Regions from separate parts of the Homo sapiens genome. Here region 2 is linked to region 1. Evidence: fine-mapped expression QTL. A gene starts in region 1. The other region holds a variant in brackets. All regions are shown on one strand. Distances are between the middles of the regions. Region 1 holds the start of SEMA6A (semaphorin 6A). Region 2 has its middle 71 kb from the start of SEMA6A.

Region 1 (5,376 bases):
CTGGGACTTCACAGAGATAAGTGACTTGCCCAAGATCACCAGCTAAGTTACATTAACCGCAGATGGCCTCCAGAGACCAGGGCCTCAAACACTCCATTTTACGTCACTTTAAAAAAAACCACTGAAGTCACCTTCTCATCACTCTGTGATTCTTTAACTCTTTGGCTTTCTTTTCCTGAAGGGACAGGGTATAAATTGCAGACTTCAAAGGCTTTGAAGGGGCAGTGGTTTTACTGAAAACTTACTGCAGGCTTCTGGAAGTGAGTCTGAGGCGCACTTATGGGGAAATGACATCATGAGGTTTCATAGCCTGGCTTCCCCACAGGTGCTCCCCTGGGGGTTTCGGGAGCCTGACAATAGCTGGCTTTTCTTCCAGCTCCGGGAGCATCTTTTCTGGCAGGTGGAAATGTAATATCACGTGGTCAGAAGGAAGGGCTCCTACTTGGATGGTGAGACTAGGATCTAGTAATTGCCAGGAAGATTCTGGGTGGTATTTCTTCACTGTGAAAAGTAGACTCCAATTCTTTAACTCTCGTATTCTATAATTTTAAATTAGGTAAATTTAATCGCTCGCTTCTTGGCTCAGCGTTACTACAAATTAAACATGCAAGTATTAATATTGAATATAATGTCCCTTTAAACAATATCCTGAAACTCGTTGTGGGGCATTTCCAATATATCCATAAAGCAAATAAAACAACTTAATTGTTTGTTTCTCTAAGGGAAGGAGCTAAACCCGAAATTAATTTAGTTCGGCCTGTGAAACAATTCGTTTGCTCTGCCTAATTCTGCCAATTTAAGAACTTTTCCCAGACACAATTAGCATGTAAATCGGCGGCGGGGAGCGAAGAAGGAGCCTCGGCGACCCCGGTTGGGTGGAGCGCGGGACAAAAAACCCCGGAGGCCGAAGGGTCCGGAGCTTCGAAGGGGCTGCAGTACCGCGCCTGGGGCGCACGGACGAGCCAGGGGACCAGCTCACACTGACCCTGCAGTCATCAGCCAAAATCTGGGTGTTAAATAGCGCAGCCGGGGATCCAGCCGTCTTGGCCGCCAGATCCTTCTCCTAACCCCGCGGGATTCTGAGGAGACGTCCTGGAGCCGGCCCCCACCCAACCCGCGGGAAAGCGCAATCCTACCCACCGCCCCACACTCCCCAACCCCCTCCCGAGGCTGGCTCTTGAAGCCGCGGGGGCTGCGCGCGCACCTAGGGCCGCGCCCCCCACTACCCCAGGTCTATAGAGGCCTTTGCCCGAGAAAGGTGGGGATAGCGGCCCCTGCTGACAGCTCTGGAGAACAGCAGGGGTACTGATTTTTTCTTTTTTTCCTACCATTCTCCCTACCTTTTCCAGGTGGTGGTAGTGGTGCGGGGGGAATGGGTGTTGACCCATGTGCATTTATTCTTCGTGAAGCCTCTTAAGCAGATGTCTGTACTTAGAGAAGCGACCAAAGAGGGAACGTGGACTTATTAGTGGTCTTAGTCCCAATTAGGGAACAGGTACAGTTTCCAATATAAAGAAACTCGGCCTAAGTGGGACTGAGACCCCGATCTCCGCACTTGCTTTTCTCAGCCAACTCCATGACTAGTAAATATCTCTCCGAGAACTGCTGGGCCGCCCGATGTTACTTTGTTTAAAGGTTGCGACTAGGATCCGTACCATCTGCGAAGCCCCCTTGGGGAGCAAGAGCCGCGGCGCGCAGTTGATTTCGGGGCGCAGCGGCAGGGGGAGGGGAACGTGGTGTGGCCCGACGAGTTGGCACAAGCCTGTAACTGCAAGACTTTGTAGCTATTGAAAGTTCAAGTGGTGAAAGAAGGCTGTGCCTGCCATTCTTCATGTGATCATAACAATAGCGCCTTGGAAGTGGTTGCGATTTTCTTCTTCCATAAACCTTTTGGGTTCTCACTGGAATTGTATGCGTGTTATTTCTGAAGTTTACTTATTTCTAAGACCAGTCCACAAAATGTGAACTTCATTAAGTTTTAAAATAGATCGCCGTCGTTAAAAACGCCATTCTCTGCACTGTAGTTTATTTGCTTACTTCACATGCTTTATTAACGTGTGTATGTGCGTAATTAATAGCTGTGTTCTTATCTTCCAAGTGTATTTTTAACCGCACCGGCTTCTATCCAATTCATCTAACTACGTAGAGCGTCCATCGCTTCTGGAATCTACCTCTTGATAACAGTAATCAGAATCAGAAAAGCTCGCCGTTCACTTACCCTCATCCTTTAAAACTTTTCCATTTAAGAAAATCGATGAACAAAACCTTTCTTGTAACTCGCTCCTGCACTACGTCTATTTTTATTTATTTTTCTGATTTGGCAGGACTCAGCAATGCTGTCCGGGATTTTTTTTTTCTTTTTTTTTTTCCTAGCTAGAGCAGATGTGGGGGTGGGGGAGGTGAGGGCTGGGCTCCAGCCAGAGTCGCCCCCGCTGAGCCTCCGCCTAGCGCGCGGTGGGGCCAGGAATCCTGGTGGAAGGAAGCGGCGCTGGCCAGTTGGTCCAAGGCTCCACCTGCAGCCACACCGCGTAGTTTCTCCGCCTCTGCCTCGCTCACTCGCACTCACATACACCACAGCTCTCCTTTGGGTCGGAGGAGACGCCAGCCAAAGTAGGCGGAGTTGCGGAAGGAGAGTCCGATCTGCGCAATCCAGTCCGGGACTTGGCTCCGCCCGGGAGCGGCGGCCTCTCCGGTGACAGAGGAGTAGTGAGCGGCACGGGGTGAGGCTGCAGCCAACTCCGCTCCCCGCGCACTCGGCTGCCCAGGCGCTCGGAACCCAGCAGCGGCGCTCCTCCGCGGTGCCGGTCGCCCGCGATGCCCGCTTAGCAGCGTGTAGCAGCGGCCAGCATCACCACACCCGCGGCACCGCGCTGCCGGCCGCAGAGCCGGGCCAGAGCCTTGCACCCCTGCCCCAGCCCCCACCCCGCCCCCCGCCCTGAAATGACTTGTTAATCGGCGCAGACACCACCAAGGGGACTCACCGAAGTGGAATCCAAGTGGAATTTGGATTTGGAGAAGAGTTTCTTGAACATTTACCCTCTTCCTTGTTGGTTTTCTTTTTCTTTTTCTTCTTTTTTTTTTTGGCTTCTTTTTTCCTCTCCCCTTCTCCGCTCGTCATTGGAGATGAACACATCGCGTTTGCATCCCAGAAAGTAGTCGCCGCGACTATTTCCCCCAAAGAGACAAGCACACATGTAGGAATGACAAAGGCTTGCGAAGGAGAGAGCGCAGCCCGCGGCCCGGAGAGATCCCCTCGATAATGGATTACTAAATGGGATACACGCTGTACCAGTTCGCTCCGAGCCCCGGCCGCCTGTCCGTCGATGCACCGAAAAGGTACGCCCCGGGCGCCCGGGCGCGCCCCACCTCCCGGGCAGCTGGACTCCAGCCTGAGGGTCCCGGGGCCGTGGCTAGCGCGTGCTGTCGGCTTTGTGGTGCCTGCGTTTTATTTTGTCTTGTGTCTCTGTTTCCCGAGCCTTGCCCGGTCCTGGGGGAGCAGCCGTGAGCCCTGCCTGCCTTTCCTCTCTGCCCTGCGCCCCAGAGTGCGTCCGGCTCCACGTCGAGAGCTTTCCCACCCGCGTTGCGCACACGCCCGGCGCCGCCCCGGGCCGCGACGGCGCGTATGGCTGTTCCTCCTGGGGGTGTGTGTGCGAGACCCAAGGCTCATCCTCCCGCGTGCCCAGCAGGGAGCAGAGCGGGCCCTAAATGGTGGGATTCTCGGAAGCTCCCTGGCCCGGTGTGTCGAAGGCAGGGGAAGGGGTTCTGCCCTCGAGGGCTGGAGGGGGTTGGGTATAACAGCGCTGTTTTCGTCCAGTGCCAGGTGGGAGAAGGGGTTCCGCGGAGACGGTGTGGAAGCGGAGAGAATCTTTTGTTGTCAGTGTGGGGTCTGGGCTGGGCTCCGTGGAGTGCAAGAAACTTGTAATGGCTCTAGGCACCCGCGCGCCCTGTCTCTCGGTGAGATCCTGGCTCCTGTGGCCGCTGCCACCAGAGGTTCCGGGCTTTGTTTGCTCGAATAAGTGTCCGGGAGCAGCCGTTCGGGTGACGCGGCGCCCCCGCCATGGGTCCTGTCCCCCGCCGCAGCTCCCAACCCGAGCGGCAAGGATATAGCCCGTCGCGGCTGCGTCCCTCCTGAAGCACCGAGCCCTTTGCACCGGGCTGGCGCACGGTACGCCCTCCTCCCAGATCAGCGCGGTCTCGCTCTGGAAAGATGACCCAGGAGGGGGAAGGGTGAGAGACCTGGCAGAAGATGGCCCTGGGTTTGAAACCCAGACTAGGGCTCTGTTCCGACTCCTCACTGTGTCCTAGGGCGCTACCATGGGGGCAATGGGGCGCTGGAGAGTAAGCCGGGCAGTGCCCACCCACCCTGCCTGATCCTTCTGGGGCGGGAAGTGTCTCTTGTCCCGATTCTCCGCGTTTTGCTCAGCTCCTCGCTGTGGGAGATGGTGCAAAACAGGATCCTGAGGTCTCCTCCCTCCTCGCAAGACCCGAGCGGCACGGGGGGAGCCAGGGAGCGGTCCCGGGCTTGTGGACGTCGGGAAAGGAAACAGAATTCCGCTGTTTTTCCCGCTCCCTCGCCGCCCCTCCGCCCAGCGCCTCCTCCCACTTTACAGCGGCGGGGTCACTAGACCAGGCGCTCCTGGAAAGTTTCCCTGAAAGCCAGGGGCGGCAGGCACGACCGGACTGGGGCTCAGCATGTGCAGTCTGAGGGAAGCCGGACCTGGAGGGAATCATGCGGACAGCTCGGGATGCAGCTAGGAGCTAGATCCCGGCCCTTTGGAGAGTGGAACCTCCTGGCCCGCGGTACTTGCTCGACAAGTCGGGGAAGGGATGAATGGGGAAGCAGGACCCCGGAGGCAGGTGCGGCCACTGTGGACAGAGGCTGTGGGGAAGGTGCGTGTGGACACAGGCCGGGGCTCAGTGGCTTGCAAGTAGGCAGCTTCAGGTGCAGAATCCCGAGCCATCTGCTCCCTGCGCACGATTTCCCAGCGTGGCTATCCAGGGAGGGAGGAAGCAGAGCCAGGTGTGCGTGGAGCGGGAGAGGAATGGGAGACTGGAGGCGCTGTCTTCACAGCCGGGGCAAGCACTTCCAGGGAGTCTCCGGCCTGTATCGCACTGGGGAGCCCTGCAGGCTTTTTCGCGTCGGTCTTTGGGAGAAAGGTGGCTGCTTTGGAACTGCGGTGGCCAGGCACAGCCACAGTGGGATCGCTCCTTTTTTTACGCTCAGCTTTTTTACGCTACTGAATGCGATCTGTGAAAGGTTTAAAACACAGGCGTGCATGGACACACACACGCACACACTCGCCCTTGTACGCACAACTTTCTTTACCTCAGATCTGAAAAGCCGTTTAACCCACTTGCAGTGTTGTGCCAGCAGGT
Region 2 (5,376 bases), 71 kb before region 1:
CCTCTTTTTGTTCCTGGTTTTTCCTTGAGTTGGCTACTGTTGGTCCCAGAGACATGCAAACAGAGCACCCTGACTATAAAATCAGCCTGGCAACACGAACAGATCTGTGCAGTCACAGGGAGGTAGACAGAGGAAATCACGGAAATCAAACCGTTTGATTACCTGTTAATCAACTGCACAAGAAAAGCCAGAATAGCCCAGGATAAATGAGCCAATAATAAGTATACAGCCACCATACTTAAAATTTCTCCCCTTTGCGGCCAGGCGCGGTGGCTCATGCCTGTAATCCCAGCACTTTGGGAGGCCGAGGCGGGTGGATCACAAGGTCAGGAAATCGAGACCATCCTGGCTAACACGGTGAAACCCCGTCTCTACTAAAAATACAAAAAATTAGCCGGGCATGGTGGCGGGCGCCTGTAGTCCCAGGTACTCGGGTGGCTGAGGCAGAAGAATGGCGTGAACCCGGGTGGCGGAGCTTGCAGTGAGCCGAGATTGTGCCAGTGCACTCCAGCCTGGGCAACAGAGCAAGACTCCTTCTCAAAAAAAAAAAAAAAAAAAAAAAAAAATTTCTCCCCTTTGGTTTGGTAAGTCAACAAAAGTTTAAACAATTAAAGGAAAAAATAAAAGCATGAGTGTTGTGACAACAAAAATTAGTTTTAAAAGTAAATTATAAAAATCATATATAGTCATGTGCCCATAACAATGTTTCAGTCAACAACAGACTCCATATATGATGCTGGTCCCATGAGATTATAACACCATATTTTTACTGTACCTCTTCTATGCCTCGATATGTTTAGATACACAAATACTTACCATTGTATTACAATTCTCTGAAGTATTCAGTACAGTAATAGTTTATATCCTAGGAGCAATAGGCATATACCATATAGCCTGGGTGTGTAATAGGCTATACCATCTACGTATGTAAGTACACTCTATGACAGGGTCCTCAGCTTCTGAGCTACAGACTGGCACTGGTCAATGGCCTGTTAGGAACAGGGTTGCACAACAGGAGGTGAGCAGCGGGTGAGTAAATAAAGCTTCATCTGTATTTACAGCCACTCCCTATCACTCGCATTACTGCGTGAGCTTCACCTCCTGTCAGATCAGTTGCAGCAATAGATTCTCGTAGGAACGCAAACCCTGTTGTGAACTGTGCATGTGAGGGGTCTAGGTTGCATGCTCCTTATGAGAATCTAACGCCTGATGATCTGAGATGGAGCTGAGGTGGTGATGCTAGTGCTGGGGAGTGGCTGCAAACACCAACTAACATTAGTAGAGAGGTTTGACTGTGCAGACACCATAATACGTCAATTGTTTGCAGACTCATATCAAAACCCTATCAGTGAGTGACAAGTGACAATTAAACTGCATCTGGTGCCAAGCTTTATAGTTGCAAGTGAGTTGATGTACTTCAATTGTACAGCTGCATCTAGTGGCAGGGTTTAAGTCAGAATCTGACACTTATTTTAGTCCACGCGTGGCCCACCCATTATTTTATTTGCCATTTCTGTTCATGCCTCTTTCTGCACTGTGCACTTGTCTCAGTCACAGTTTTGCTAAGTCCACAAGATAACCCTAGCCAAAATGAGTAAAAAGCAAATATCACTGGAGAGCTTCTTCCAAAAGGGGGAAACACCCAATGATGAGACAGCAGAAGACTCTAAGACTGCCAACAAAAAGAAAGCTGCACTTGACAATACCAAGAGTCCTCCTTAAAGTATGGGTTCATTGCAACAGGTGATTCACATTCTCCAAACCTGCTTTGTATAGCGTGTGGCAACCAGCTATTCAATGAAGCCATGAAACCTTCAAAACTGCTTCGCCACATAGAGACCAAGCACCCTGCATTAAAAGACAAGCCTGTGGAATTTTTCAAAAGAAAAAAAACTGTGAACACAAAGAACAGAAGCAATTATTGAAGGCCACCATTTCATCAAATGTGTCTCCACTGAAAGCATCATTCTTAGTGGCTAACCACATTGCTAAAGCTAAGAAGCCCTTTACTATTGGTGAAGAGTTGATCCTGCCCACTGCTAAGGACATTTGTTGTGAACTTTTAGGAGAGGCTGCGGTTCAAAATATGCCTTGTGTTCCTCATTCAGCTAGCACCATAACTGGATGAATTGATGAAAAAGCAGAGGATGTTGAAGCACAATTGTTAGAGAGGATTAATGAGTCACTGTGGTACACATTCCAGGTTGACAAGTCTAGCAATGTTGACAACAAGGCAACAATGCTTGTTTTCGTGCAATATATTTTTCAGGAGGATGTGCATGGGGGTATATTATGTGTGCTTTTGTTGCCAACTAACACCACAGCTGCAGAACTATTCAAGTCTTTGAATGATTACACATTAGGAAAATGGAATTGGTCATTCTGTGTCATTGTATGCATGGATGGAGCAGCTGCCATGACCAAACAGCTTTCAGGTTTCACTGCTTGGTTCAAAGAGGTTGCCTCTGAATATTAGTCTATGCACTGTGTCATCCATAGAAAAATGCTGGCTAGCCAAAAAATGTCACCTGAACTTAACAACATTTTGTAGGATATGATTAAAATTATCAACCACAATAAAGTGCATACGCATAACTCACATCTGTTTGCACAGCTCTGAGAGGAGATGGATACAGAGCACACATGTCTTCTCTTATACACAGAAGTGAGATGGCTTTCTCAAGGCAGATCACTGGCCAGAGTTTTTTAGTTATGAGAGCCACTCCAGAGATTTCTTTTAGAAAAACAGGCAACACTGGCAGCACATTTCAGTGACACAGAATGGGTTGCAAAACTTGCTTACTTGTGTGACACATTCAACCTGCTCAACGAACTCAATCTGTCACTTCAGGGGATAACAACAAC[AACT/T]GTGTTCAAGTCAGCAGATAAAGTGGCTGCTTTCAAAACCAAACTGGAACAATGGGTTGATGAGTGAACTTTGGGATTTCTAACATGTTTCAAACATTAGCAGAAATTTTGAAAGAAAGAGTCTGAGCCAAGGCCTTCTTTCTCCCAGCTGGTGCGTGATCACCTATCTCAGCTTTCAAGAGTTTGAACGTTACTTTCTGTGGTGATTAATATTAGGTGTCAACTTGATTGGATTGAAGGATGCCTGGATGATGGGTATTGTTTCTGGATGTGTCTGTGAGGGTATTGCCAGAGGAGATAGGCATTTGAGTCAGTGTATGGGGAGAGGAAGACTCACCCTCAATGTGGGTGGGCACCATCCAATTGTCTGCCAGCGTGACTAGAACAAAGCAGGGGAAGAAGGTGGAAACACCTTGCTTGCTGAGTCTCCTGGTTGCCTTCTTTTTCCTGTGCTGGATGCTTCCTCCTGCTCCTCCTGCGGTTGGACATCAGACTCCAGATTCTTCAGCCTTTAGACTTTGGGACTCACACCAGTGAGTGCTGGAGGCTCTCGGGCCTTCAGCCACAGACTGAAGGCTACACTGTCAGATTCCCTGGCTTGGAGGCTTTTAGACTTGAACTGAGCCACTACTCACTTCTTTCTTCCCCAGCTTGCAGATGGCCTATCATGGGACTTCACCTTGTAATTATGTGAGCCAATTCTCCCTAATAAACTCTCTTTCATATATAGATATATCCTATTAATTCTGTCCCCTGGAGAACCCTGATTATACGCTTCCCAACCATAAAAGACCCTGAACTGGGAAGGAATGGATCCATCACCCATTTGTGAATAAGCCAGGGGAATTGACTTTGTCCGTTGTAGAAGAGGACAACTGCTTGAGATTGCAAATGGCGGTGCCCTTAAAAGTATGTTTGACGCAACTTCAAATCTTCATACGTTCTGAATTAAAGTCGAGATGGAATATCCTGAGATTACCACAGAAGCACTGAAAAGTCTGCTTCCATTTCCAACATCCTATCTTTGTGAAGCAGGGTTTTCTGCAGTGACAGCAACCAAAACGAGATTATGGAGTAGACTGGACATAAGCAACACACTTCAGGTATCACTGTCTCCCATCACCCCCAGATGGGAACTGTCTAGTTGCAAGGAAAGAAGCTTAGGGCTTCCACTGATTCTACATTGTGGTGAGTTGTATAATTATTTCATTATATTACAATACAATAATAATATAAATAAAGTGCACAATAAATGTAATGTGCTTGAATCATCCCAAAACCATCCCCCTCCCCTGCCCCAGTCCATGGAAAAATTGCCTTCCACAAAACCAATGCCTGGTGCCAAAAATGTGGGGGACCACTGCTCAAAATGATGAAATTGCCTAACAATGCATTAATATGTTCCTGTTGTTTAGATAGATGGATAGATAATAGGCAGATGATAGATAGATAGATAGATAGATAGATAGATAGATGATAGATATAGATAGATATCCTACAAAGCTTTTTATGTGACCATGTAAATAGTATTGTTAGTTTTATATAAAATGTGTACTGGTAACTCTGCTAATGAAGTTGTCAACTTTTTGTATGAAAGTTAGTTACTCTCTTCAAAAGCTAGGTTCTGCTAAGTTGTATTTGATGGTGCTGTGTCATCTCAGAATCAAATCACAAGAAAGAGCTGCATTCCAAAATCTTTGTAAATGCTCTGGAATCAGATAGACATCTAGAGATATTTCTACAAAAGAATGTTCAATAGCCAGAACATCAAATGCAAAAGGGAAATTCAAAAAGTTTCCTACGCAATTGAGAATACAATTACCCAGGCTCATTTAATATTACACTTTTTTTACATCTGAAGTTAACTTGGCTTGAATGTTCTCTCTTTCAAGAAATCTTCTGTTCTGGTTACTATTGTTACACGGCAAATCACTTCACAACTCAATGGTGTAAAACGACCATTGTATTATGCTCATGGATTCAGAGGGTAAGGAATTCAGAGTGTGTAGCAGAGATGGCTTGCGTCTTTTCCATGATGTCTGGGGACTGAGCTGGGAATACCTAATGGCTGGGGTGACTCAAGAGCTGGGGGCTAGAATCATGTGCAGGTGCCTTCTTCACATGTCTGCTGTCAATGCTGGCCATCAGCTAGGACCTCAGCTGGGAATGTCAACCAAAGCACCCACAGATCACCTCCCTATGTGGCCTGAGCTTCCTCAAAGCATGGTGGCCCCAGAGGAATTGAATTTCTCACTTGATGGACTTTTTACCTGATGTCCCAGTAAACAGGGGGAGACTTGAACCTCTTTTTCTGACTTAGCCCCAGAAGTTAAAAGCGTTATTTCTACTGTGTACTGTATTGGTTACATATGAGTCACAAGCCCATCCAGGTTCAAGGGAAGATATCAATTCCAACTCTCAATGGTAGGACTACCAATGTCTCATCATAGAAAAGTATGTGGGATAGGAGATATTCCATCTTTGAAAACTACAATCTCAAATCTTCCC

What was found. PIP is the estimated chance that this variant, and not a neighbour inherited with it, causes the effect. A credible set is the group of variants that fine-mapping cannot tell apart.
Region 2: its variant is the best candidate, but not a certain one, in a credible set for the expression of SEMA6A in cerebellum (GTEx, PIP 0.88).

Annotation. Positions count from the first base shown.
Region 1 is chr5:116,572,145-116,577,520 of GRCh38, reverse strand. SEMA6A (semaphorin 6A) reads left to right here and starts at 2,698. Exons shown (of 19, transcript NM_020796.5): 1 at 2,698-3,336. It overlaps SEMA6A-AS2 (SEMA6A antisense RNA 2), which reads right to left and starts at 3,103. Exons shown (of 3, transcript NR_147170.1): 1 at 2,982-3,103. RefSeq lists enhancers at 1-2, 4,640-5,376 and a silencer at 2,863-2,942.
Region 2 is chr5:116,642,754-116,648,129 of GRCh38, reverse strand. No RefSeq gene overlaps it. Among named protein-coding and RNA genes, the nearest start is that of SEMA6A, 71 kb to the right of the region's middle. The variant AACT/T (reference allele first, on the strand shown) is at 2,866.